3 separate regions of the Homo sapiens genome follow, and regions 2 and 3 are each linked to region 1. The links come from fine-mapping of genetic effects on gene expression. A gene starts in region 1. Each other region holds a variant in brackets. All regions are shown on one strand. Distances are between the middles of the regions. Region 1 holds the start of TFIP11 (tuftelin interacting protein 11). Region 2 overlaps HPS4 (HPS4 biogenesis of lysosomal organelles complex 3 subunit 2). Region 3 overlaps ASPHD2 (aspartate beta-hydroxylase domain containing 2).

Region 1 (8,181 bases):
CAACATGGTGAAACCCCCATCTCTACTAAAAATATAAAAATTAGCTGGGCATGGTGACGCACACCTGTAGTCCCAGCTACTCGGGAGGCTGAGGCAGAAGAATTGCTTGAACCTGGGAGGTGGAGGTTGCAGTGAGCTGAGATTGTGCCTCTGCACTCCAGCCCGGTGACAGAGCGAGACTCCATCTCAATAAATAAATAAATAAATAAAAATAAAAAATAAAGAAAATAAAAAAATGGGCCAGGCGTGGTGCCCCATGCCTGTAATCCCAGCACTTTGGGAGGCTGAGGCAGGTGGATTGCCTGAGGTCAGGAGTTCAAGACCAGCCTGACCAATATGGTGAAACCCCGTCTCTAATAAAAATACAAAAATTAGCCGGGTGTGGTGGCATGCGCCTGTAGTCCCACCTACTCAGGAGGCTGAGACAGGAGAATTGCCTGAACCTGGGAGGCAGAAGTTGCAGTGAGCCGAGATCACGCCACTGTACTACAGCCTAGGTGACAGAGCAAAACTCAGTCTCAAAAAAAAAAAAAAAAAAAGATATTGCAGAAATGACAGTGTGACTCCAAGACTAGGCCATAAAAGACCTTGTGGCTTCTGCCTTGCTCTCTCTTGCTTTGCTCATTTTGAGGGAAGCTAGCCACTATGTCATAACGACACTTGGTAACCATGTGTAGAGGCTCACATGGCAAGAAACTGAAACCTGCCAACAACCAGCACCAGTTTGCCAGCTATGTGAGAGAAGCACCTTGGAAGTTGGTCATCCAGCCCTGGTCAAGCCTTCAGATGGCTGCAACCCCATGAAAGACCCTGAGTCAGAACCACCCAGCTAAGCCACTCTCAAATTCCTACCAAAAGAAATTATGTGAGATAATGTTTACTGGTGTTGCAAGCTGCTACGTTTGGAGGTAATTGTTATACTGCAATAGATAACATGTAGGTACTCATTAATTATTTGTTAATGACAAATGAATAAATGAATGATGAAGGCTGTGGTTTCTCCCCTTACTGTGTTTTGCGGATATTTAATTTCCAGATAAACACCCCGAGCCTAAGGAACCTCATGTTCCAGCTTTCCATATAAGGATAGAGTCTTCACGAATTCTTGAAAGATAAGTAGGGTAGAAACCATCTGTAAGAAACATTTAGAGGGAAATCAAATTGCTAATCTCAGCTGATCTGGGTTCTCAATTCTGCCAAGTTAAGGACACCATATATATTTTTGGGACAAAATGCAAAATAAGAATAAGCCATGTGCAACTGTATAATGTCACTGTCCTAGAAAAAGTACATGTGCTAGTCTTTAAATATATCAGCTTTGAAATGCCACTTATGGATTGTTTCTATGGTACCAACCTATTTAAAGTTGTAACTAAGTGACGATATTTTTTTCCCGAAATCTTTTGTAGGCAATATGGAAAGTGTGCTGTATGGCATAGGCTGTAGAAATAAGAGGTTAGGAATGTGGACTCTGGGGTTATAACAAACTACCTTAGAAGGCTGAAGAATCAAAGAGATGATGTCTGCAGAGTTTGGCTCTGTGGCCCTGAACACACAGGAATCATGATGTGGGACCCCATGCATGGTTTTGCAAAGAAAGCACCTGCCTGGGAGTTTGAGCTCCTGGGTTTCAGGCCTGGCCCTGTCCTTAAACTCACTGTGTGGTGCTGGCACCTCCACTCTGCCAGGGGCTCCCCCACCGCCTCAGCTGCGAAAAGAGAGGTATAGACCCATGAGTGCTGGAGGGCCCTGCCAGACTCCTTCTGCCCAAGGAGCCTTGTTGCTTTGGCAACCCCTTCTGCGAAGGCCACATGTCTGAGCACCTCATTGGGAATGTAGAAATGAGTGTGGATGTTCCCAAATCTCAAAGCAATGTTTTTGTTTTTTTTTTTCCCCTCTAGGAAATGACAGGAGATCACGATAGATATGAGACCTTGAACCTAAAGCTCTGGTTGCCTTGTAAAACTTTTCCTTGTTTTTCAAAGGCTGGGCATTTGATCCCAGAAATCCTGAAAAACCATGGATTTTTGAGACTGAAAGGGGTATGACATTGGGTTTTTAAAAATGAAGGCTGGCGCAGTGGCTCACGCCTGTAATCCCAGCACTTTGGGAGGCCAAGGCAGGTGGATCACGAGGTCAGGAGTTCGAAACCAGCTTGGCCAACATGTTGAAACCCCATCTCTAATAAAAATACAAAAAGTAGCCAGGCGTGGTGGCGCACACCTGTAATCCCAGCTACTCAGGAGGCTGAGACAGGAGAATTGCTTGAACCCAGGAAGCATATGTTGCAGTGAGCTGAGATCGTGCCACTGCACTCCAGCCTGGGTGACACAGTGAGACTCTGTCTGGGGGAAAAAAAAATTAAAACAAATAAAAAAACAAAAATTAGCTGGGCGTGGCGGCGTAACGCCAGCTACTCGAGAGGCTGAGGCATGAGAATCACTACAGCTGCGCCTGTAATGACAGCTACTCGGGAGGCTGAGGCATGAGAATCACTTGAATCTGGGAGGTAGAGGTTGCAAATGAGCGAAGATTGTGCTGCTGCACTCTAGCCTGGGCGACAGAGTGAGACTCTGTCTCAATAAATAAATAAATAAATAAATAAGAATATAGCCACAATCCTTTAGAAAGCTCTTACCATGCCAGGAGCTTTACATGCACTAATTATCACTTTCTGTTTTTGTTTTTCTCTAAACAACTCTCTTAGATCAGTACTGTCACTATCCCCAATCTACAGATGGAAAAATTGAGGTGTAGAGAGGTGAAGCAACCTGCCCTCGGGCCCATACCTAAGAAGTAGCAAAGTCGAGATTTGGATCCTTGAAGTTTTTACTCCAGAGCTTTCATTTTAAGAAATTGCAAAAAAGTTATTAAGTACAGAGAGAAACATTTTCCCTGTAATAATTTGAAATTAAGGTGACCATTTGATGCCTTATCCCCTGCCAAATACATTGATTTACTTTCCAGCAAACAAGAACATCCTCTGATGTAACTTAACAGGCAACCATGAAAATCAGGAAATTAACACGGACACATCATTACCACGGCATTGTAGGCCCCATTTAAACTTTTCCAACTGTCCCTGTAACTTCCTTTCAAGCAAAAAGATCCAGTTCAGAATCATGTGTTGTGTTTAGTTGTCATGCCTCTTTGGTCCCCTCCAGTTTGGAACAGTTCCAGGGTCTATCTTTGATTTTCATGACCTTGGCACTTTCTAAGATTACAGTTTTGTATACAGCATGTCTCTTTACGTGGGTTTGTCTGATATATCCTCATGATTACATCCAGGTTATGGATCTTCAGCAGGAATATCACAGGGGTGATGTTGCAATCTTCTCAGGGCATCCTATCAAGTGCCACATAACTTCACTTTGTCCCATTCCTGACAATGCAGACTCTGATCACTAAATCAGAGCCTGCACTCTTAACTACTCCATGACAGTCCACAAAGGTCCCTTCTTCAGAAGCCACAAAGTGAGTTCCATTTGGTGAAGTAAATCCACTAGCATCAGTCCCTCATGATCAAAGTAATTGCAGCTCCATAAAATCTGCTGTAAAGCCATAAACATAGCTACAGAAAAGCCAAGCGTATGTATGCTTTTGGCTTTTGGGCTACAAACAGATGTAAATACATTCAGGCACAGACTAAAAACACTTTTCTCCTCTGTTTCCCTTACTCTGCTCCTGGCAGGGCTTGTAGTCTGTTAGACCCTCTCTCCCGGCCTTCAATGCTAAAACCACATTTTCCATTTCTTTCCTGAGTACATACTATGTGTCAGGCACAATGATTCTACATGTCACTAAGAATACAGAGATCATTAAGACACAGTCATCATTCCTAAGCAGCCCACATTTAACTGGGTACACAAAAATTGTTGTTTAATTCTTAACAACTACTTGATGGTAGACTTAAGTATTTGACTCCAAGTCCCGTGCTCTTTTTACATTCCAACAATTGCCTCTTGAATCTTTTCATCACATAGAGCAGAGAGAGAAAAATTAAGCAAAAATTAATAGCTAACACTTCTTCAGCACCTACTGTTACCAGGTACGGTTTTCATTGCCTACAGTTTTATCTTATTGAATCCTTAACCATTTTGCAGAAGAGAAAACAGGCTTAGATGTAATGACTTGCCCAAGGTCCACAGCTGCTAAATTGCACTCAAGGTTGGAACTCCAGAGCCTGTGGACACTTAAATGTCTACAAGGAGTCCTTGGGCTAGTGAGGGCTTCCCAGGGAGGGCCCATGACTGTTCTGCTCATTGTATCACATTGGCCTAGCACAGGTGAGGGGCACTTAGTATATTTTAATTAGATCAATGAATAAATTAATGAATTTACCAACCTGCTGGAAACGAAAAGAATGGAAACAGCTCCTGGAGAGAATACTTGGGAACTCCAGAGTTTGCCCATTCATTCCTTCATTCCCTCTTAAACTCCTGCATAAAGGCCACTGCCCTGTGCCCACGACGGTGCTTATACCGAGAGCGTCAAAGATACAGGAATCACAGTCTTGACCTTCATTATTCCCATTTGAATGCTGTGTCCCAGGCCCCTTATTGTCTCACAGTATTTACCACAACTACCGTATGGGCTAATCCTACATCTCTATTTTACAGATTTACAATCTCAGAGTGGTAAAGTCTCCTTAGGCCAAGGTGGCTCAGCGGATTCCACACCAGTCATCACAGGCTGAGCGTCACAGTACAAAGCAGGAGCGGCAGGGAGGCCGATTCCGCGGGGAAACCACTCCCCAGCTATTCTAGGCCTTGCAAATCCACCCCTCCTATCTAAGATCCCAGCCGGCCGCTCTGCAGCCATATCCGCCGTAGCGTCCCACGCTGCCCTGGCAGCCAGCAGGACATCCGCTGTCGACTAACGTCATTTCCGGCGCGCCGGCCACGGTGCTTCCGGGTTCTGGTGTAGGAGCGGCGTCTTCTCGCGCGGATGGTGAAGCTGAATTTGGTACGCTGGACCCTCGGACAGGTGAGCACGGCTGGCCACAAGGGGACTCAGCGCCAGTGAGAGTAGGGACGAAGGCTCAGGGAAGGCGAGCTTCGGTCCAAGCCGTTGGGGTGTGGGGAGGGGAATCCATTTCGTAGACAGCTCTGCCGAGGCACGGAGAGGGGCGGTGCTGCTTGGGGTCAACTGGGATTTAGGGCTTGGATTCATTTAAGAACCTGAGCTTCCTTCACCAAACCTAGACAGCAAGAGAGAGACAAGCCCGAGGCCTGACTTCTAGCACTCCTGAGTTTGAGCCCTATGAGCAGTGGAACCTAGGGTAAGTTACTAACTTCTCTGAACCTCCTTTTTCTTATCTGAAGCATGAAAACTAACGGTACCTACCTTGCAGAAGTGTCTTGATGCAGACAGTTGATAATCGGTCTCAAGCGACCAGCATGTACCTAGCATCTACTGATAAAGGCTTCATAACTTGTGACTACTCGGGGCTTATTACCATTTACTATGCCCACGCAGGCAGTGGTATTATTTAACTTTATGTATTTGAGATTCCCCGTCTTTTCTGAAAATCCTTCTGTCCTAAACACTCCTGGAAGAGGTTGGGACCCGTTGCACCCAACCGGTGCACCAGTGAGTAGAAGAAGGCAGAGATAACGTTTTGCCAGAGGTGACCAGAGTTTGACACTGCCTGTGGAAGTAGTGAACTCCGTGTGCCTTAAGGCCGCTTTCAGCAAGACAAGAATCACAATTGCTGTCACCTATGGAGTGTATTATTGTGTAGTGCACCATGCTTGGCGCTTCACGTGCATATTTAATTCTCATACACTGGGTATCTGATAGAGTTGAATTTGAACTCAGGCTTCGATTTTAGCCTGCCTGATTTTACAGTCACTTTGCTAAGTTTACTCCCTAGTCCCATAATAATAATGATGATTGTGATGGTAAATACTGAGTGTCAACTTGATTGGATTGAAGGATACGAAGTATTGATCCTGGGTGTGACTATGTGGGTGTTGCCAAAGGAGATTAACATTTGAGTCTGTGGGTGGGGAAAGGCAGACCCACCCTCAATTCAATCTGTGTGGGCATAATCTAATCAGCTGCCAGCACGGCAAGAATATAAGCAGGCAGAAAAATGTGAAAAGAGAGACTGGCCTAGCCTCCCAGCCTATATCTTTCTCCTGTGCTGGATGCTTCCTGCCCTCGAACATTGGACTTCAAGTTCTTCAGCTTTGGAACTTGACTGGCTCTCCTTGCTCCTCAGCCTGCAGACAGCCTATTGTGGGACCTTTTGATCGTGTGAGTTAATAGTTAATAAGCTCCCCTTTATATATGTATGTCTATTCCATTAGTTATGTCGCTCTAGAGAACCCTGACTAATACAATGATTAACCTAATCATGGGACTAAAGTAGAAGCTATCGTTTCTTGAGCACTTATTTTGAACTCATTGAATTTGCTTTGTAAGCCTTCTCTAAGGTTGGTATGGTAGTTAATCCCAATTTAAGAAAGACAACTGAATCTGGTCACCCAGCTACTGTGAGGTAGATTCTCTATATCAATCTCTGGACATCTGACTATTAAAATAGTGTTCATAATTACTACAGTCTTTCAGTTCATCAGAAGAAATTCATGTTTTGTGAGGAAAACTGAAAATTTTGTTTCATCAAGTAATGTATTTCAAAAAGCATATTCTAAAAAAAATCACTCTCCTAGGACCACCAAGGATCCAGATATAATTCTTTCCTCAGTAATAGAAAAAAGAATCTGGGATCTAAGAAGATACCTACTCATTTTCTAAGGTAATAATGTACAAAATAACCTACTTAGTTATTTTTGTGTGGTTTGTGTATGTGTGAATATGTGTGATATTTATGATATTGACTAGGACAAGGAGATATGTACTTTTAAAGAATCATAGACTGTTAGGAGTAGTATTTTGTTCACCTGTTTTAGTACTGATTGTTATCTAAAAGTAGGTTTTTAATATCTTTTTTATTGAATAGTAATGCTGACTTTAATGGACTTTGAATTTGGAGAAAGTTCTGAAAGCAGCAAGGAATAGAGACTCACAAGGAATCCTTCGACTGCTGCCCCCAGGACTTACGGCCTGTGCTCTTTTTGTCTCTTCCTTTAGTGACTGGCCATGTCATTGTCCCACTTATACCGGGATGGGGAAGGCCGCATTGATGATGATGATGACGAGCGGGAGAACTTTGAGATCACTGACTGGGATCTCCAGAATGAGTTCAACCCCAACCGACAGCGCCACTGGCAGACCAAGGAAGAAGCCACCTACGGGGTGTGGGCAGAGCGAGACTCGGATGATGAGAGGCCCAGCTTTGGAGGCAAACGGTATTGCCTGGCATGGGGGCTGCTTCACCTTGCTTTAGGGAAGAGGGGGAAGATGGACAGGGAGTGGAGGAGATACCCTGATAAGTATACTTCTCACCTGGCCTTGTTGAGACTGTTAGCTGTGACATCATCTCGAGAGGTCTGGTTTCCTCTTTAGGCTAGAGTGCTGCTCTTTCACTGATTTATTCTATTTATTATTATTTTTTTTGAGACACGGTTTCACTTTGTTGCCCAGGTTGGAGTGCAGTGACGTGCTCTTGGCTAGCTGCAACCTCCACCTTCCAGGTTTAAGTGATTCCCGTGCCTCAGCCTCCCGAGTAGGTGGGATTACAAGCAAACGCCACCACCTCCAGCTAATGTTTGTATTATTAGTAGAGACGGGGTTTTGCCATGTTGGCCAGGCTGGTCTTGAACTCCTGACCTCAAGTGATCCACCCACCTCAGCCTCCCAAAGTGCTGGGATTACAGGCGTGAGCCACCACGCCTGGCCTCACTGATTTAATTATCAGTGTTTATTGAGCGATTGCTATGTATTAGGCCTGTGCTATAGACCCATTCTTGCCTTCCTAGAGCCCAGACATTAGAAGATGGAAATAGGCATTAACAACTCAGACGATCAAACTTGTGACTGTGATGCAGGACATGAGGGACATGAGGACATGAGGGAGAACACATTTTAGGGCATTTCATCTATTCTGAGAGGTCAAGGAAGATTTCTGTGGAGAAAAGTGACCCTTAAGCTGATATGACTGACAGTAGAAGGTAACTAGGGTGGTAGAAGAGGTCCCAATATGCAAAGGCCCTTGATGGGAAGCATCACGGTATCCACAAGGATATGAAAGGCTTGGGGGCTGGAGCAGAGAGG
Region 2 (8,181 bases), 43 kb after region 1:
TTTGGGTTAATATTTGTGAATGGTGTGAATAGAGGTCAAGGATCTTTTTTTTTTTTTCCACCTGGATAACCAGTTCTTCCAGCATCATTGTTGAAAACATTTTCCTTTCCCTATTGGATTTCCCTTTGGTTCCTTTGCCAAAGATCAGATGACCATTTAAGCGTGGGTCTATTTCTGGACTCTTTTCGGCTTTTCCACAGATCTGTTTGAAGATTCTGTGTGAGTACCACACTGTCTTGATTTCTATAGCTTTATAGTAAGTCTTGAAACCAGATAGTATAAGTTCTCCAACCTTATTCTTTCTCAAGATAGCTTTGGATATTTCAGGTTCTTTGTGTTTTCATTGTACAATCAGTTTGTGGTTTCTGAAGAAAAGCTGGTGGGATTATGATTGCAATTGCATTCAGTCTGTTCATCAATTGGAAGAATTGAACACTTCTTACATGCCAGACTGTTGTAAGCTCTTGGATTACATCTGGGAACAAAGCAAAGATCCTTGTGCTACTGTAGCTTACATTCAGAGGGAATTTTTGTTTATTTGTTTTCTGTCAGGGTTTATTAGTTTAAATATCTGATGATTCCCTTAGGACAGATTCCTAGAGGTAGAATTACTACATCAAGTAATAGGAACTTTTTCAGGCTCTTTAAACATATGACCAGATAACTTTCTAACTCAGCAAGTACTTTTTTTTTTTTGAGACGGTGTCTCGCTCTGTTGCCAGGCTGGAGTGCAGTAGCGCAATCTCGGCTCGCTGCAACCTCTGCCTCCCAGGTTCAAGCGATTCCCCTGCCTCAGCCTCCTGAGTAGCTGGGACTACAGGCACACACCACCACGCCCAGTATTTTTAGTAGAGACGGGGTTTCACCATGTTGGTCAGGATGGTCTCGATCTCTTGACCTCGTGATCCACTCAAAGTGCTGGGATTACAGGCATGAGCCACCGTGCCCGGCCAAGTATTTATCTTCTGTGGAACTAACCACTACGCTCAGCATTTTGGAGATCTAGGACTGGGAAGATTGCGGTCAGTTCTTGCTCTTAAAGCACTCTATCCAGCTGGAGAAACATGATGGCCATTCATGAAGGAGTTTGAGTCCTGTCCATTGTTTGTAATGGAATCCAGATTAAACATCTACTGTCCAAATAACAGTCCTAACAATGCAAGGGTCAGAAAAAAGGTCAGCATTATTGGCTCGAGGTAATAGAACAGACCTCATGGAGATACTGAAATTGGTGGTGGGCACTGAAGGTTGTAAGTTCTGGGGAAATGAACAATAAGGAAAAGGACATTTGAGATTGGAAAACATGAATTGAGGTACAGAACTTACTTGTCCATGGAGATTAACTTGGCCAGAATGAAGGGTGTGGACTCAGGGACAATAGAAGATCAATTTCGATGGGCCAGTGAAGTCAGGTAATTGAGAGCCCTGGATGCCAGGATTCTGGGCTTGGACTCAAAGAGAAGGAAGATGCTTGTCTTCCTGGTTTCTCTCTTTACAGGTGCTGGGCTGTGCTGTGGAGCTCCCTGATGTCAGCTGCAAGCGGTTTCTGGATCAGCTAGTTGGATTCTTTAATTTTTACAATGGACCTGTTTCCCTAGCTTATGAGGTACAAGTATGGGGTTGAGGAGTCTTACATTGGGCCTCTTTATAAAAACCGGTATTGCCAGAATGCAGCACTTACTCTGGGGTCTTGTATACTTCATATAAACACATTGTGTCTGGGGACAAGGTCAGGAGCTCTTGGAGGCCCCTCATATGCCTTTGGGCCTAGTGGCATAGGTCACATTTATTCCAAATGTTTATCCCCATCTCCTCCCTGGGATGTTTAGAAAGCGCAGGCCCTGCTTGCCACCCCCACGCGGCAGGCGCCGTGGATCTGTGATGGGATAGGTTTAAAACAGGTCCTCCCTTCCGGTCAGTTTCCTGTGTGAGGAACAATTTTTGAGGTAGTTGGGACTCTGGCCAAAGAATCTGTCCCTCAAAATCTCAGATATTGACCTGAGGCTCTTTCTGTTTTAGAACTGTTCTCAGGAAGAACTGAGCACGGAGTGGGACACCTTCATCGAGCAAATTCTGAAAAACACCAGTGATCTGCATAAGATTTTCAATTCCCTCTGGAACTTGGACCAAACTAAAGTAACATTTTCATCCTCCTTATTCATTTTATATGTAAGACTAGGGCTTCTGGATACTTTTTTAATATTCCTGAAGTGAACTATATCTGGAAAAGTGAGTAGAATGTCACTTCTCAGGCAGGGCCATGACACGGCAGGTCACCTCTCAGCCTCATTTCCCTTATCCAAAGAATGGTGTCAGCATACCTGCCTTCTTGAACTGTTTTGATGATCAAGTGAAGCAGTACCTCAAATGACACCAAGTAAATGCTCAGTAAAGGGAATTAGTATTTTGTTCATGCCTCAGAAGTGTTGAACTCAGTAATCTGAAGGCCGCCTCTCTTGATATTCATATCATATGATCTAGTTATTCTCAGCATCAAAAATGCCCAGCATGAACATTTCAAAAACAAGGTTGCTGTCTTTGAGAGAGAATGGTTGGGAACTGTTTTTGTATCTCTGAGCCGCTCCGTTTGCGGTTGGCACTCAGTGAAACCTAGGCTGCTTGTGTGGCTGGCCTGACCACCTGTGCTGCCCCATTAAGAGCCAGCTACCTGAGCCCTGACTCACAGCCCTCTCCTGTGTCTCACTGCGATAGTAAATAATGTCCCTGTAGCAGGGGTGTAGCACTGTGGCTCAGCCTTCACAGAGCATGACTCCACCAGACATGGGGAAGGGTTTTCCCTGCTCCAGTCTGGAAAACTTCCTGTAGCTGGCCCCAGAGCTTTATAGAATGGCTGGCTGGGATGGCACAGTCTTGAGGCTATGAAGAATAAACTTCTTAATGTGTCAGCAGCTCCGGAGGCTCCATTAACACTAGTTCTAACAGCTGGTGGATACTTGCTGGTTCTAGCTGGCAGGTGGAAGTCTGAGGAGGCTGCTGGTTATTGCTGGCTCTTCCTGACCAGGTCCAGATGCTTTTCTTGTATTTTTAGGGACTTCTAGGCCCCTGACTCCATACAAGGAATGTGGAACTGAGGCATATTTCCCCGAGTGAAAGAGCATGATGTTTTCATTTTATGTGATGGAATAGAGTCATGGAACCTGGTCAGACATCAAGCCACCTGTATCACCATGGGGATTGTGCTTCAGAAGGAAAGTGGAGGATAGGGTAGGTGGGTTTCACCTGGTACCATGACATGTATTTATAGGATACACCCTCCTCTTCTGCTGCCGTGAGGTCTTAGCATTGTCAGGGTAGACAGTCGGTCTCCCAGGCCATCTACTTTGACCCCTTTGAATAGCCATATGCCATATTTGCTGCACCTTCTAGCTTCTGGACAGGCCTCCTTGTTCTAAGAATTTGGCATTTAGTGGTGTCAGCAGTTCTGAGTATAGAGAGGTAGAATAGTCCCAAGCCATGGCACAGCTTTCACTGTGTGACACATTCTCCTTTTCCAGGCTTTGAGCTACACCCTGTCCAGCTGTTCTGTACAACCCTTTCCCCTTTTCTCCCTTCCTGATTGTGAGCATGCTGATGGGTGGGCATGATGCCTCTTGCCCTGCACAGGTGGAGCCCCTGTTGTTGCTGAAGGCAGCCCGCATTCTGCAGACCTGCCAGCGCTCGCCTCACATTCTCGCTGGCTGCATCCTCTATAAAGGACTGTGAGTAACTCCAGACCCCTTTCTTCCAGCCCCATTCCCTTGCTGCACAACTGACCATCAGCCACCTCCAGATCACAGTGGGGAGCCCAGTCTCTGGCCAGTTCCAAGTGGGCTGGTTCGGCAAATATCAGGTAGTTTAGATTTGACTCAGTTTAGAAAGACAGGTGTGTACCTGTCTTTGAGCAAAGCTGAGAAATTGGAAATAGTTGTGTTCAGAAAAGAGTTAAGAATGTCCCTATAATTCTCAGTATGGGGCATGCTGGAATAGTTGTCAGTCTGCAAAATGCTAATGCAGAGTCCCGAGCGTTGCCAGCAGCCAGCACTGTAGTCAAGAGGCATGGAAGGGGCCTGCTGTGACCCTCCTCCTGCTGCCCAGAGACCCTGGTGTGCTTGCCTCAGCTCAGCTCTGCAAAGCAGCCTTACAGGCCCTTATCCAGCTGCCTTCAAGCCTCTTGGCTGGGCCAGTGTCTTGGTTGGCCTCTGAGAATTCACTTCACTTCTTCATGTAGTTGGAGGGCTTCTTGGTGAATCTGAGTGCCCAAGAGCCACTCTAGGTCATCTAAGGCCTCTCTCCTCATGGAGGGTTTGCTGTCACAGCCCAGGGCAGGCAGGGCCATTGCGCTGTGCCCGGAGCTTCCTGAGGAGCAGGCAACTACTGTGTAAATGGAGAAGCACTGAGGCTCTCGCAGGGGCCCTTGGGCCAGACAGGCTCGGCCCCAGATCCTCCCTTCTTTCGCCAGCCATGCGGCCTTGGGCAAGTTGCTTAGCCTCAATTTTCTCTTCTGGGAAATAGACATCCCTTGTGAAGAATGAAATGAGATGACAGATGCGGAAGAACCGAGCATAGACCCTGGTGGGCTTTGCACTCTTCTTCCTTGCCC[C/T]GGTTCTTATCATGATGGTTCTGAATCAGCTGTGGGATTTCCAAGTTCGTCAGTGACATACCCACCAAAGACAGTATTTTTTTTCCCCTTTTCTCATTTTGCATTTCTTAAATGTATATATATATATTTTTTTTTCTTTTTTTTTTTTTTGTAGGGACGAGGTCTTGCTATGTTGCCCAGGCTGGTCTCAAACACCTGGCTTCAAGCGATCCTCAGCTTCCCAAACTGCTTGGATTATAGACATAAGCCACTGCACCCAGCCTGTATTTACATTATACGGCTAATACATGAATACATTTTCACTGTAAACAAATCAATCAATAGAGGAACACACAGAGCACAATTTAAAAGCCCCCCTTCTTTCTTCACCATTTTTGTTTGTTTGTTTTTGAGACACAGTCTTGCTTTGTTGCCCAGGCTGTAGTGTAGTGGCATAAACACAGCTTACTACAGCCTCGACCTCTTGGACTCAAGTGATCCTCCCACGTAGCTGGAACAACAAGCACTTGCTACCACACCTGGCCAAGCTTTTGATTTTTTTTTTTTTTTTTTTTGTAGAGATGGGATCTCACTATGTTGCTCATGGAGGTCTCAAACTCCTAAGCTCAAGTTATTCTCCCACCTCAGCCTCCCAAAGTGCTGTGATTGCAGGAGTAAGCCACTGTGCCCAGCCTCTCCCTCACTCTTAACCTGTCCTCACCATTGGCAGTTTGGTGGGCATCTTGCTCTTTCTGTGTGTTTGTCCCCACTGGTACATGTATGCATATATTGCTTTTGTTTATTTTTGCTATCTCCTTAAATAGGATCACATGGTTTCTCAACGCATACAGTGAAGATTTCCTTACCGGTTCATATGGGTCTACCTCATTCTTATGAGGACTGCATACTTTTTGGGATTCTGGCTGTGTTGTGCTTTACTGTCTTGTTGATGAACATTTTGGTGGTTTACTCATTTTTTAATTGTTTTTACCATTCTCCCTGTAATGAATATTCTTACGCATACATCTTGGTACAAGCTGAGTCAAAGGGTTTGGATATTTTAAATGTTGGTAGGAACTGCCAGAGTGCCCTCTGTAAGGGTTTTACCAGTTGAAACTCCCACCAGCCAAGTCCCCAAGATCCTCGTCAACACGGGCTGTTAGGCATCTTTAAAATTTGGAGTGTTTTGGTGTATTTCGTCTCATGGTGTTCTTGTTCTGTGTGTGACCTCCTAGGATTGTCAGCACCCAACTCCCGCCCTCCCTCACCGCCAAGGTCCTGCTTCACCGAACAGCACCTCAGGAGCAGGTATTGTAAAGTCCACCCACCTGGCTGGACAGCATCCCCCAGAGCACTGGTCACTGAGCCTGAGGCTGGAGGGATCAGGAGCAGAGGCCGTGGAGCAGTTGTTTCACTTGGTCTTGTCAGGACCCCAAGTCCTCCAATGTCATTCTCCTCAGTAGTGAAGCCATTGGTGAGGCTGAAAGAAAATGTTTTCTTCCACGAGCTAGGCCTGGATAGTTGTTTTTTCTTCAAACCAAGGAAATCTTGGTTGAATTCGACTTCCCATAAGAATTTGATGTCTCTTTATGTCAAAGAGATGTTAGACTTTTCAGAGACAGACTGTAAAGGATGTGTCTTTAGAAAGATTTAGGGGGTTGGGCACGGTGGTTCACACCTGTAATCCCAGCACTTTGGGTGGCTGAGGTGGGCAGATCACTTGAGGTGAGGAGTTCAAGACCAGCCTGGCCAACATGATGAAACCCATCTCTATTTAAAATACAAAAATTAGCTGGGTGTGGTGGTGCACACCTGTAAATCCCAGCTACTTGGGAGGCTGAGGCAGGAGAATCGCTTGAACCTGGCAGGCAGAGGTTGAGGTGAGCTGAGATCGCGCCACTGCACTCCAGCCTGGGTAGCAAGAGTGAGACTCTGTCTCAAAAAATAAAAATAAAAATAAAAAAATAAGGAAAACAAACTCTTCTAAAATACTTCCATTTTATATTTATTTAATTGTTTTTATATTGAAAAAAAAGCCATGCATGCTCATTGAGAATAAAATTGCCCATCTTTGAACTGTACAGGGATAGCCACTGCCAGCATCTGGCATATCTCCTTCCAGTCCTTTTTTTGTTTTGTGTATGAAGCTGTGGTTTCCAGCGTATCATGAGGCTGTCTTTTTACATGTATTAGTGAACAGGCATGTAAAATGCTGGTAGGGCTCTATTCAGCCTCCTCAGCCACTGTGGCTATGGGTGTCAATTCAAGTAGCCTTTCTGGGAAACACTTTGATAATGAGAACGTTAAGGATGCCCTTTATTTTTTTCCTAATAATTTGACTTCTAGGAATATATCTTAAGGAAATAATGTAACTGCTGAAAAAAATTTATACTCAAAACTTGATCACAACAAGCTTTATGAAAGTGAAAAATCAGACAAAACTTGAATGCTTAAAGTAGGAGGTGGCAAATTATGGCCTGTGGGCCACCTGCCTACAAATGAAGTTTTATTTGGCTGCTTTTGAGCTATAATAGCAGAACCAAGTAGGTGGGACAGAGACCATATGCCCTGCAAAGCCAAAAATATTTACTGTCTTGTCTTTTGCACAGAAAGTTTACTAATTACTGGTCTAAGGTAGGTAAATGATTAATTTACTCATATCACTTAAACCTTCATAAAATTTTAATCAGCCGTTTAAAATGGCCAAAGATGTTTTAGTGGCAGGAAATGCGTGTTACTGTTTTAAGCAGAAATATGAAATTTTATATAGTGTGGCCTCAAAAGTATAAAAACTGCATAGGCTTAAGGAAAAAATACCCAATATTAATAGTACTAGCTTGGGGATGAGGGATTGTATGTGATTTTTTTTTTCAACGCTTTGTCTAGAGTAAATTGAGGTTAGGCTTAGTAATCTAAAACATAGTTTTTTAAAAATCACCAAAAAAGGAAGAACACCATATCATTCTAAGATTGAAAGTCATTTTGGCTAGAAGAGCAGTTCTTGTTTGGTTTGGTTTTGTTTTGGTGGGTTCTTTTGGAACCCTCAGATTGAAACGAGAGATGTTTTCATTTTTGAGAAAATCATCAGGTTTTAGGCCCTGATTGTGAACCAGAACAAACGAGAGATTGGGTATAGCATTTTGTTTAAGTCAAATCCTTTATCGTGAGAGTCACAGTATTTTGACATTTTTATTATAATGGAATTTATGTGAATTCTACATCAGGGCTGTGGCAGATGTGACTGTATTCTAGAATATGAGTTCCCCAAAGGTGTAAAAGAGAACAGGAATCCTCAATTTTATTCCCAGAAGGGAGAGAGACTGAGAAAATCAGAACGTAGAGTGTGATGTGAGTTTGGGTGGAGCTGCTGCCTTGCAGCCTGTGTGGGCCCAGGTTCTTGCTTCATCCCAGCCATAGTGGGAGCCAGCAGCTTGGGGGAGCTTCTGTTCCATCTGCTTGGCTCTTAGCATGTGGTTGGGACAAGCTTTCTGGGCCTGGCTAAGTTTTATGAACAGATGGCACAGCAAATTCCTGATGGTTAGGTCAAGAGGAGAATGTGGTGCCCAGCGCCAACTTCTGTGTGTGTTTGTTTTCAGAGACTC
Region 3 (8,181 bases), 75 kb after region 1:
TTGACTTCTAAAGCACCTGACCTGCCTCACACCTCTGGAGCCCGTGCTATGGTCTGAAGGCTTGTGGGCTTGTGTCCCTGCAAATTCCCATGTTGAAACCTGACCCCAAGGTGATGGTGTTAGGAGGTGGGGCCTTTGGAAAGTGATCAGATCATGAAGGTGGGGTCCTAATGGGAGCAGCATCCTTATAAAACAGGCCCAAGGGAGCTTCTTTACCTCCTTTTGCATCTTTTTTTCTTTTCCCTTTTTTTTTTTTTTTTTTTGAAATGGAGTCTCTCTCTGTTGCCCAGGCTGGAATGCAGTGGTGTGATCTCGGCTCACCGCAACCTCCACCTCCCAGGTTCAAATGATACTCCTACCTCAGCCTCCGGAGTAGCTGGGAGGCACTGGAGTAGCTTACAGGCACCCACCACCTCACCCGGCTAATTTTTTTGTTTGTTTTGTTTGAGACAGAGTCTCACTCTGTCGCCCAGGCTGGAGTGCAGTGGCGCGATCCTGGCTCACTGGAACCTCTGCCACCTGGGTTCAAGCGATTCTCCTGCCTCAGCCTCCCGAGTAGCTGGGATTACAGGCACCTGCCACTGTGCCAGGCTAATTTTTGTATTTTTAGTAGAGATGGGGTTTCACCATCTTGGCCAGGCGGGTCTTGAACTCCTGACCTCGTGTCCACCCGCCTCAGCCTCCCAAAGTGCTGGGATTACAGGCGTGAGCCACTGCACCTGGCCGAATTTTTGTATTTTTAATAGAAATGGGGTTCCACCATGTTGGCCAAGCTGATCTCGAACTCCTGACCTCAAGAGATTTGCTTGCCTCAGCCTCCCAAAGTGCTGGGATTACAGGCATGAGCCACAGCACCTGGCCTGACATCTTTTTTTTTTTTTTTTTTTTTTAGATACAAGGTCTTGTTCTGTTGCCCAGGCTGAAATGCAGTGGCTCCACCATAGTTCACTGCAGCCTTCACCTCCTAGGCTCTAGAGATGCTCCAGCCTCACCCTCTTGAGTAGCTGAGACTATAGGTGTGCACCATCATGCCCAGCTAATTTAAACTTTTTTTTGTAAAGATGGGGTCTTGCTATGTTGACCGGGCTGGTCTCGAACTCCTGGCCTCAAGCTATCCTCCCACCTTGGCCTCCCAAAGTGTTGGGATTACAGGCAAGAGCCACTGCTCCTGGCCACCTCCTTTCACCATGTGAAGTCACAGTGAGAAGGTGTCATTTATGAACAAGAAGCAGGCCTTCACCAGACGCCAAATCTGCTGGCACCTTGATCTTGGGCTTCCAGCCTCAGAACTGTGAGTTCTACATTTTTGTTGTTTATAAGCCACCATCTAGATCTTCACTGCACTCTTGGCAAAAATTCATTCCTTCATTGGCTTCATCTATTCTGGGTCATGGATTCCTTTTATGAAAGTCACAGACTGACATTTGCACTACACTCTGAAGCCTAACCAGGGGACCCCCAGAAATCCAGGGAGGTTGGGTTTAGAACCTTGCCTTACCCAGTAACTGTGTTTACTGTAGTCTCCCCTCTAGGACTATCTCAGTTGCGATTAAAAAATCAAAGGCTCACACAGTGTTCTCCTCCTTGGGTTCTAGCCTTTTAATCCGTTTTGAGGCTGGAGAATGGCGTGCTCTTCGTCTGCCCTCATTCTGGGAAACTGGAGGACACTTCTAAGGTAATGGCTTAGGTTCAAGAGGAAATAGACTGGCAGCTTTGTAAGAAGCCGTATGCTTGGCTGGGCACAGTGGCTCACACCTGTAATCCCAGCACTTTGGGAGGCTGAGGGGTGGGCAGATCGCGTGAGGCCAAGAGTTCGAGACCAGCCTGGTCTCAAACATGGTGAAACCCTCTCTCTACTAATTATCCAAAATGAGCCAGGCATGGTGGCAGACGCCTGTAATCCCAGCTACTCGGGAGGCTGAGGCATGAGAATTGCTTGAACCCAGGAGGCGAAGGTTGCAGTGAGCCGAGATTGCATCACCGCACTCCAGCCTGGGCGAATCGCACCACTGCACTCCAGCCTGGGCAACAGAGTGAGACTCTGTCTCAAAAATAAAAATAAAAAATAAAAAATAAGCCGTATGCTTCAACCGGCCAGTGGGGTCCGGTTGGAACACTGCCATGTGTGACCCTCAGTCGCCCTTTCCAACACAAGGGTCTGCAGAAACACTTGGCCCCCATCACTACCTTGATGTCCAGAAAAGAAGGGGCCACCGTGGCCATCTAATGATTTCAGAAGGGGTTGGGTCAGCCCAACAGCTCTCAGGAAGGCCCACCCAGGGGGAAGCAGAGTCCTGGAAGAGGAGCTGGGATGGGTGGTGGTCTCATCTGTCTTCAGTGACTCACTGTGACCACAATGACCCTGGGCCAGTTGGCATTCCCCTCTGATTTAATGTCCTTTAGCATAAAAATGAAATAGCTTTCCTTCCAGCAGCCAGAGTATTTTAATGTATTCTTTGAACCAGAAATAATGGTTCCAGGAAGTACGTTCACAGTAATAATTCAAATAAAGAGGCCACATGGAGGAGACAGAAGGACGGAGGACTTGGGGACAGACGACTGGTTGTGACTCTTATGTGCTGTGTGACTTTGGGCAAGTCACTCAGCCTCTCTGAGCCATACCCTCACCTGTAAAGAGGGGACATTAGCATACTGAACCTTCCAGGGCTGCTATGGGACTTCTATCCTTGTTACCAATAACTGAAGACCTACTGTGTCTTCCTACTCAGCTTTGTGCTAAATACACACTTAACAGGTATCACTTCACCCACTTTCCAGATGGGGTAACTAAGAAGTTAAATGACCTGCTAAAAAGTTACCATTTAGTGTTGCTGAGTCAGCCTGACTCCAAAGAACAGGCTGTTATAAAACTGGACATGATGATATAAATGCTAGTTGTTATACTATTAACAGAGGAATTAAAGTGATTGTGGAGTTTTCGATTTTTCTTTATTTATTATTATTTTTTTTGAGACAGAATCGTGCTCTGTCGCCCAGGCTGGAGTGCAGTGCCATGATCTCAGCTCACTGCAGCCTCTGCCTCTTGGGTTCAAGCAATTCTCCTGCCTCAGCCTCCCGAGTAGCTGGGATTACAAGTGTGCACTACCGTGCCCAGCTAATTTTTGTATTTTTAGTAGAGATGGGGCTTCACCATGTTGGCCAGGCTGGTCTCGAACTTCTAGCCTCAAGAGATCCACCTGACTCGGCCTCCCAAAGTGCTGGGATTACAGGCTTGAGCCACTGTGCCTGGCCTGATTGCTGATTTTCTTGTAGTTAACATGTCTGATAGTTAATACTGAGTTTCAACTTGATTAGATTGAGGGATACAAAGTATTAATCCTGGGTGTGTCTATGTGGGTGTTGCCAAAAGAGATTAACATCTGAGTCAGTGGGCTGGGGAAGGCAGATCCACCCTTAATCTGGCAGGCACAATCTAATCAGCTTCCAGCAAATATAAAGCAGGCAGAAAAACATAAAAAAGTGAGACTGGCCTAGCCTCCCAGCCTGTATCTTTCTCCAGTGCTCGAAGCTTCCTGCCCTCAAACATCGGACTCCAGGTTCTTCAGCTTTGGAAACTGACTGGCTTTCCTTGCTCCTCAGTTTGCAGACAGCCTATTGTGGGACCTTGTGATCATGTGGGTTAATACTTAATAAACTCCCCTTTATATATATATGTGTGTGTGTGTGTGTATGTATGTATGTGTATATATATATATGTATGTGTATATATATATGTATATATATGTGTGTATATATATATGTATATATGTGTGTATATATATGTATGTATATATATGTATGTGTATATATGTATGTGTATATATGTATGTGTATATATGTATGTATATATATGTATGTATATATATGTATGTGTGTATCTATATATATGTATATATATGTGTGTGTGTATATATATGTATATATATGTATGTGTGTATATATCTGTGTGTATATATATATCCTATTAGTTCTGTCCCTCTAAGAGGACCCTAATATGTTTCAACTCTCAATAGTACATTTCATTAAATCAGCTGAGACTGCTCATCCTGACAGAAGCCATGATTTCCCACTATGGTTAACAGCAGCTGGGGGAGTCAGGGCTGTAAAGACGCCCAGATGGAGGGACTCAGAGGCTACGTTTTCCTTTGGCGTGTGCCCCTACTGGCTGGTTCAGGTGGCGAAGGCCTTTAGGAATGGGCAGTTCTCTGCAGGGACAGCCACCCCGGGGTTTCAGAAAGAAGCTCCCCTTTCTCTGGGCCACTAAATGATTCATCGCCACGTGCCACGGTGCGATAGAAAAATGGCCTGGCCTGCTGGCTTGACACCCCCCTGCTTCTTGTTCTCCGCCTCCCCTTCATTCTGCTCCTGCCCCC[A/G]TTCCTGCCTGTTGCCCACAAACCAGCTTAGTTGGCAGAAGAGCTCAATTCTTCCCTAAACAGATCATTCCAGTGGCTCTTGAGGACAGTGACAGGTCCCACACATGGCCTCAGATAGTCCCATATGCTCCTCTATGGCTCAAGCTTTGCTGCTCTGTCCCTACCGAGCCCTGAAAGAGGCAGGAAGGAGGGTAGAGAAAGGGCTGTGTCCACCAGTGGCCCCCACTTCAGGCGGCTGGCAACCGGGCACTCAGGGTGGGCAAGGGGAACATGAGCTGATCTACTGTTACCACCCGGCTAGACCACCTAGAAATCTGATGACATGCAGAAAAGAAAAACAAGAGTCTAACTGTGCTTCTTTAGCTAGAATTTGCTGAACATATTCATGCATTTTCATGAAGTATCTGCCTCCCTGGTAACATCTGCCTGGTGAGTTTCAGAGGTGGTTTTCTGGAAGTTTGTGGCAGTGCATCTGGAATATCCCAGCATTGTGTACGATGCTGAGTGGGGGGTGGGCCTGAAGCTGTCCTGTGGTCCCATATGAAGTCGGGACTAGGTGATGCCACCTCTAGAAGTAGCTCACAGCAGGGCTCAGCAAATATGTCTCGAACAAATGGGCTGTGTTAGTGAGGAGCAGTGGCTGGGTCTTCAGTGGTCCACAGGGACAATTCCATCAGTCACAGCTCAGGCAGAAGGCAGAAGAAAAGCAAGCATTGGCATTTCAAGAGCACGGTTCTGGAACTGCAGGTGCCTCTACCTTCAGCCAGGTAACCAGCAGAGGTGTGGCCACCAGGTACGCACCAGGCTTATCCTGCTTCTGACCTCATTCTCTGGACTCCCTCTCTGTCAACACACAAGGTCACATAAATCCGACACACCTTTGTTTCCTTCCTGGGTGGATATTAATGTGGGCATGATAGTGTAAAGAAGGAAACGCTGAGAAAACCCAACCAGGGAGCTCGCCTTGGCCGTGGAGAACAAGCCACGCCACAGTGGGACGTCTTCCAAGAAGGTTTCCTGCTATCTACAGGAACATGGAGGGCCTACTTTTTCTGGCAAGTACCTAGCTGGGCTGAGAAAGGAATGACAGGCCACAGGCCACAGTGTGAGCCAGCGTGGGCATGTTTTACACACACACACACACACACACACATGCATGCATATCATACAGATGAACAACAAGTGTTAATCTACAGAAAGCAAACCCCAGATTTTCCTTGCTACCATCACTTCCTACTCACACCTCTTTGAAATTCTACCACATCAGTCCTCAAATGCCCTTCCCCAGATGTCATTCTGAAGTTTTAAAACAATACATAAAGGCAAACCTTTCAAAAGAAGAGCATCACTCCCCATTGCCCACGGCCTCCATTCTCAAGCCTGGCATCAAGGGCCTCTGAGGTTTGCTCCCACCTGACCTGTCCAACCTCAGCCCACACTACTGGCCTCCCCAGCAAGCCTAGACCCGGCTTCCCCAAGCCCCAGGGGATGATTCCGCTCCCTCGCTCCACCCTGGCGGCACCTGATTTCTGTGTGGGGATCCTCCAGTGTCAGACCCACCTCCCCAGGGCACCCCGTCTGCAGCCAAGTGAGGCTTGGGGCCTCGCACAGCAGTTTTGCTAATGACCATCACCTGGATTATCATCCCATCACTTAGATTAGCTTACTGTCCACTGCCCTCTACCTGCCAAGCATTTTACACATATTACTTCCCACTCCTCAAAACAGCCAGCAAGTGGGAATCGTCATCTCTGTTTTAGAGAAGATAAAACGGAGGCTTAAGGAGGTTCAGAGCCCTGCCCAAGGTCACTCAGCAAATGGGGCGAGGCCAGGACCTGAGTCCAGATCTGTTTGCTTCCGAAGCCTGTTCCTTTCCCACTGTTTCCTGGGGGCAGGGTCTATGTCTTATGGATCATTTTTCACATGGTCCAACACAGTCCTTGATAATAGCTACTAGCTCCCATTCATCAAATGCTGTCACGTGCCAGGAATCCTGCCAAGGGGCCATGTAAGATGCCACTCATTGAATCCTCTCAACAATCCTGTGAAGTAAGTACCATCTCCCCATTTTACAGATGAAGAACTGAGGCAGAGAGAGACTCAGTGACCTGCTCAAAGTCTCACGGCTGACTGCTGACCAGGAATTCAGGCCACCTCCCCCAAAGCCTCCACCCAGTCCGCCCTTTACTCTTGAAATTCCTACCATGTCAATTGCTCAAATCTCATTATATTTTTCTTTTCTTTTCTTTTCTTTTCTTTTCTTTTCTTTTCTTTTCTTTTCTTTTAGTGCAGTGATATCCTCCATCCAAACCACATCTTACTCAGAACCCCCACACAGACAGCAGGAGAAGCAGAGCTGCTGAGGGTGAAGAGGGCTCGGGGGCCCCCAGCTCCGGCTCCTTCCCAGGCAGCCCTGAGGCTCCTCTGCAGAACGTGGTTATGAAACTCCCACTCCAACCCATGCACCAGGTTCCTCCTGCTGCTCTTCCTTCCTCCCTACTGAAGCTGAAGCAGCGTTGTGAACTTTGTAAAGCTGGACGCTGCCAAGGCTGTCTCTGCACACTCTAATCTGAGATACTAACCGGTGATGCCACCATCCCAGAGACGAGCTTTTTATCGCCACTCACCAGGAATAAGGCATTCTGGGGAACTAATACCTCCATGATTAAGTTGTTTTAAGCCTACTTTTATTGAATACTTGCTCTATTTTAGGCTCTGTGTGCATACATACAATACACATTATCTGATTGGATCCTCAGAATAACTCTTTAGGAGAAGATCTTTTTACCTCCACTTCCCAAATAGTGAAATTGAGGCTCAGAGAGGTGAAATGACTTGCCTACAGTAGCACAGCTCGTGGTGGGGCCAAGATGCAAACAAAGGCTGTCTAACTCCAGTCTTTGTTTGCAAAACCACAGCCGCACACACAGTACGCATACGACCAATTTTCTCAGAATCGGAGTAAAACAAGCTTATCACCAAGGATCATTTCATCCTTGATGACTGCAAAGATGCTTAAGTATCTTTCACAGCCTCCTGGACATCATTATGAAGCTCGGTAATCATTTTAACAAGTCTTTGGCTCTAGAACGACACTGTCCCCATACGGTAGCCACTAGCCGTATGTGTCACTGCTATTTAAATTAAATTAAAATTTAGTTCCTCAGTTACAGGAGACAAGTTTCAAGCACTCAATTAGTCACATGTGTCTAGTGGCTACCATTTTGGACAATGAAGATGGAGAACATTTCTGTCACTGCAGAAAGTTCTTTGCACAGAGCTGCTGTCAGAAATTAGGTTTGCACTGATCACAAGATTTCTTTTTGACTCAATCTCTGCTGTCAAATTGTTTACATGCAATTCATCAGTTTTTGCTAAAAGTGAACAATGCGAAAAGGCGCAATTCTGACCATTTGAGCTTTCGCGATGTTTTGATGGAGAGGGGCTGAGCTTGCAAATGTGCATGCCGGGAGACCCCTGTCCTTGCAACATACCTAAATGGCATCGGATGCGGATGTTGGTGGGTCCATAGTGCTCCGTTATCACAGTCCCAGGGCTCAGCACAGAGATGCACGCGTTCCCAAAAACATTGTTCCCAATACAGGTCCGAAGGCTTCCGAGCAAGCGGTACGTCCGTGGGCACTTCCTACAGTTCCTGGGAACACAAACCCCCTGATTGACCAAGTAAAAGGTGAACCACTCCCCGCTGGGGGTGCTGTTCATTTTCCATCCTTGCGGGAGGCTGCAGTTTGAGAAAGCTTTGTAGAGGGTCTCAAACTCACACAGGATGGTCTGGAAGTTCCGTTCC

Evidence for each region. PIP is the estimated chance that this variant, and not a neighbour inherited with it, causes the effect. A credible set is the group of variants that fine-mapping cannot tell apart.
Region 2: its variant is the best candidate, but not a certain one, in a credible set for the expression of TFIP11 in whole blood (INTERVAL, PIP 0.72).
Region 3: its variant is the best candidate, but not a certain one, in a credible set for the expression of TFIP11 in whole blood (TOPMed, PIP 0.78).

Annotation. Positions count from the first base shown.
Region 1 is chr22:26,509,199-26,517,379 of GRCh38, reverse strand. It overlaps TFIP11 (tuftelin interacting protein 11), which reads left to right and starts at 4,907. Exons shown (of 15, transcript NM_012143.4): 1 at 4,907-4,986; 2 at 5,205-5,281; 3 at 6,678-6,763; 4 at 7,099-7,316. The coding sequence starts at 7,108. TFIP11-DT (TFIP11 divergent transcript) reads right to left here and starts at 4,848. Exons shown (of 2, transcript NR_144529.1): 1 at 4,346-4,848; 2 at 2,812-3,968. RefSeq lists enhancers at 4,085-4,622, 4,845-5,024.
Region 2 is chr22:26,466,257-26,474,437 of GRCh38, reverse strand. It overlaps HPS4 (HPS4 biogenesis of lysosomal organelles complex 3 subunit 2), which reads left to right. Exons shown (of 14, transcript NM_022081.6): 5 at 1,499-1,606; 6 at 2,020-2,136; 7 at 3,625-3,719; 8 at 5,815-5,887; 9 at 8,176-8,181. Among named protein-coding and RNA genes, the nearest start is that of HPS4, 13 kb to the left of the region's middle. RefSeq lists an enhancer at 2,279-3,478. The variant C/T (reference allele first, on the strand shown) is at 4,601.
Region 3 is chr22:26,434,188-26,442,368 of GRCh38, reverse strand. ASPHD2 (aspartate beta-hydroxylase domain containing 2) reads right to left here. Exons shown (of 4, transcript NM_020437.5): 2 at 7,868-8,181. Among named protein-coding and RNA genes, the nearest start is that of ASPHD2, 9.0 kb to the right of the region's middle. RefSeq lists an enhancer at 1-353 and a silencer at 1,666-1,822. The variant A/G (reference allele first, on the strand shown) is at 4,374.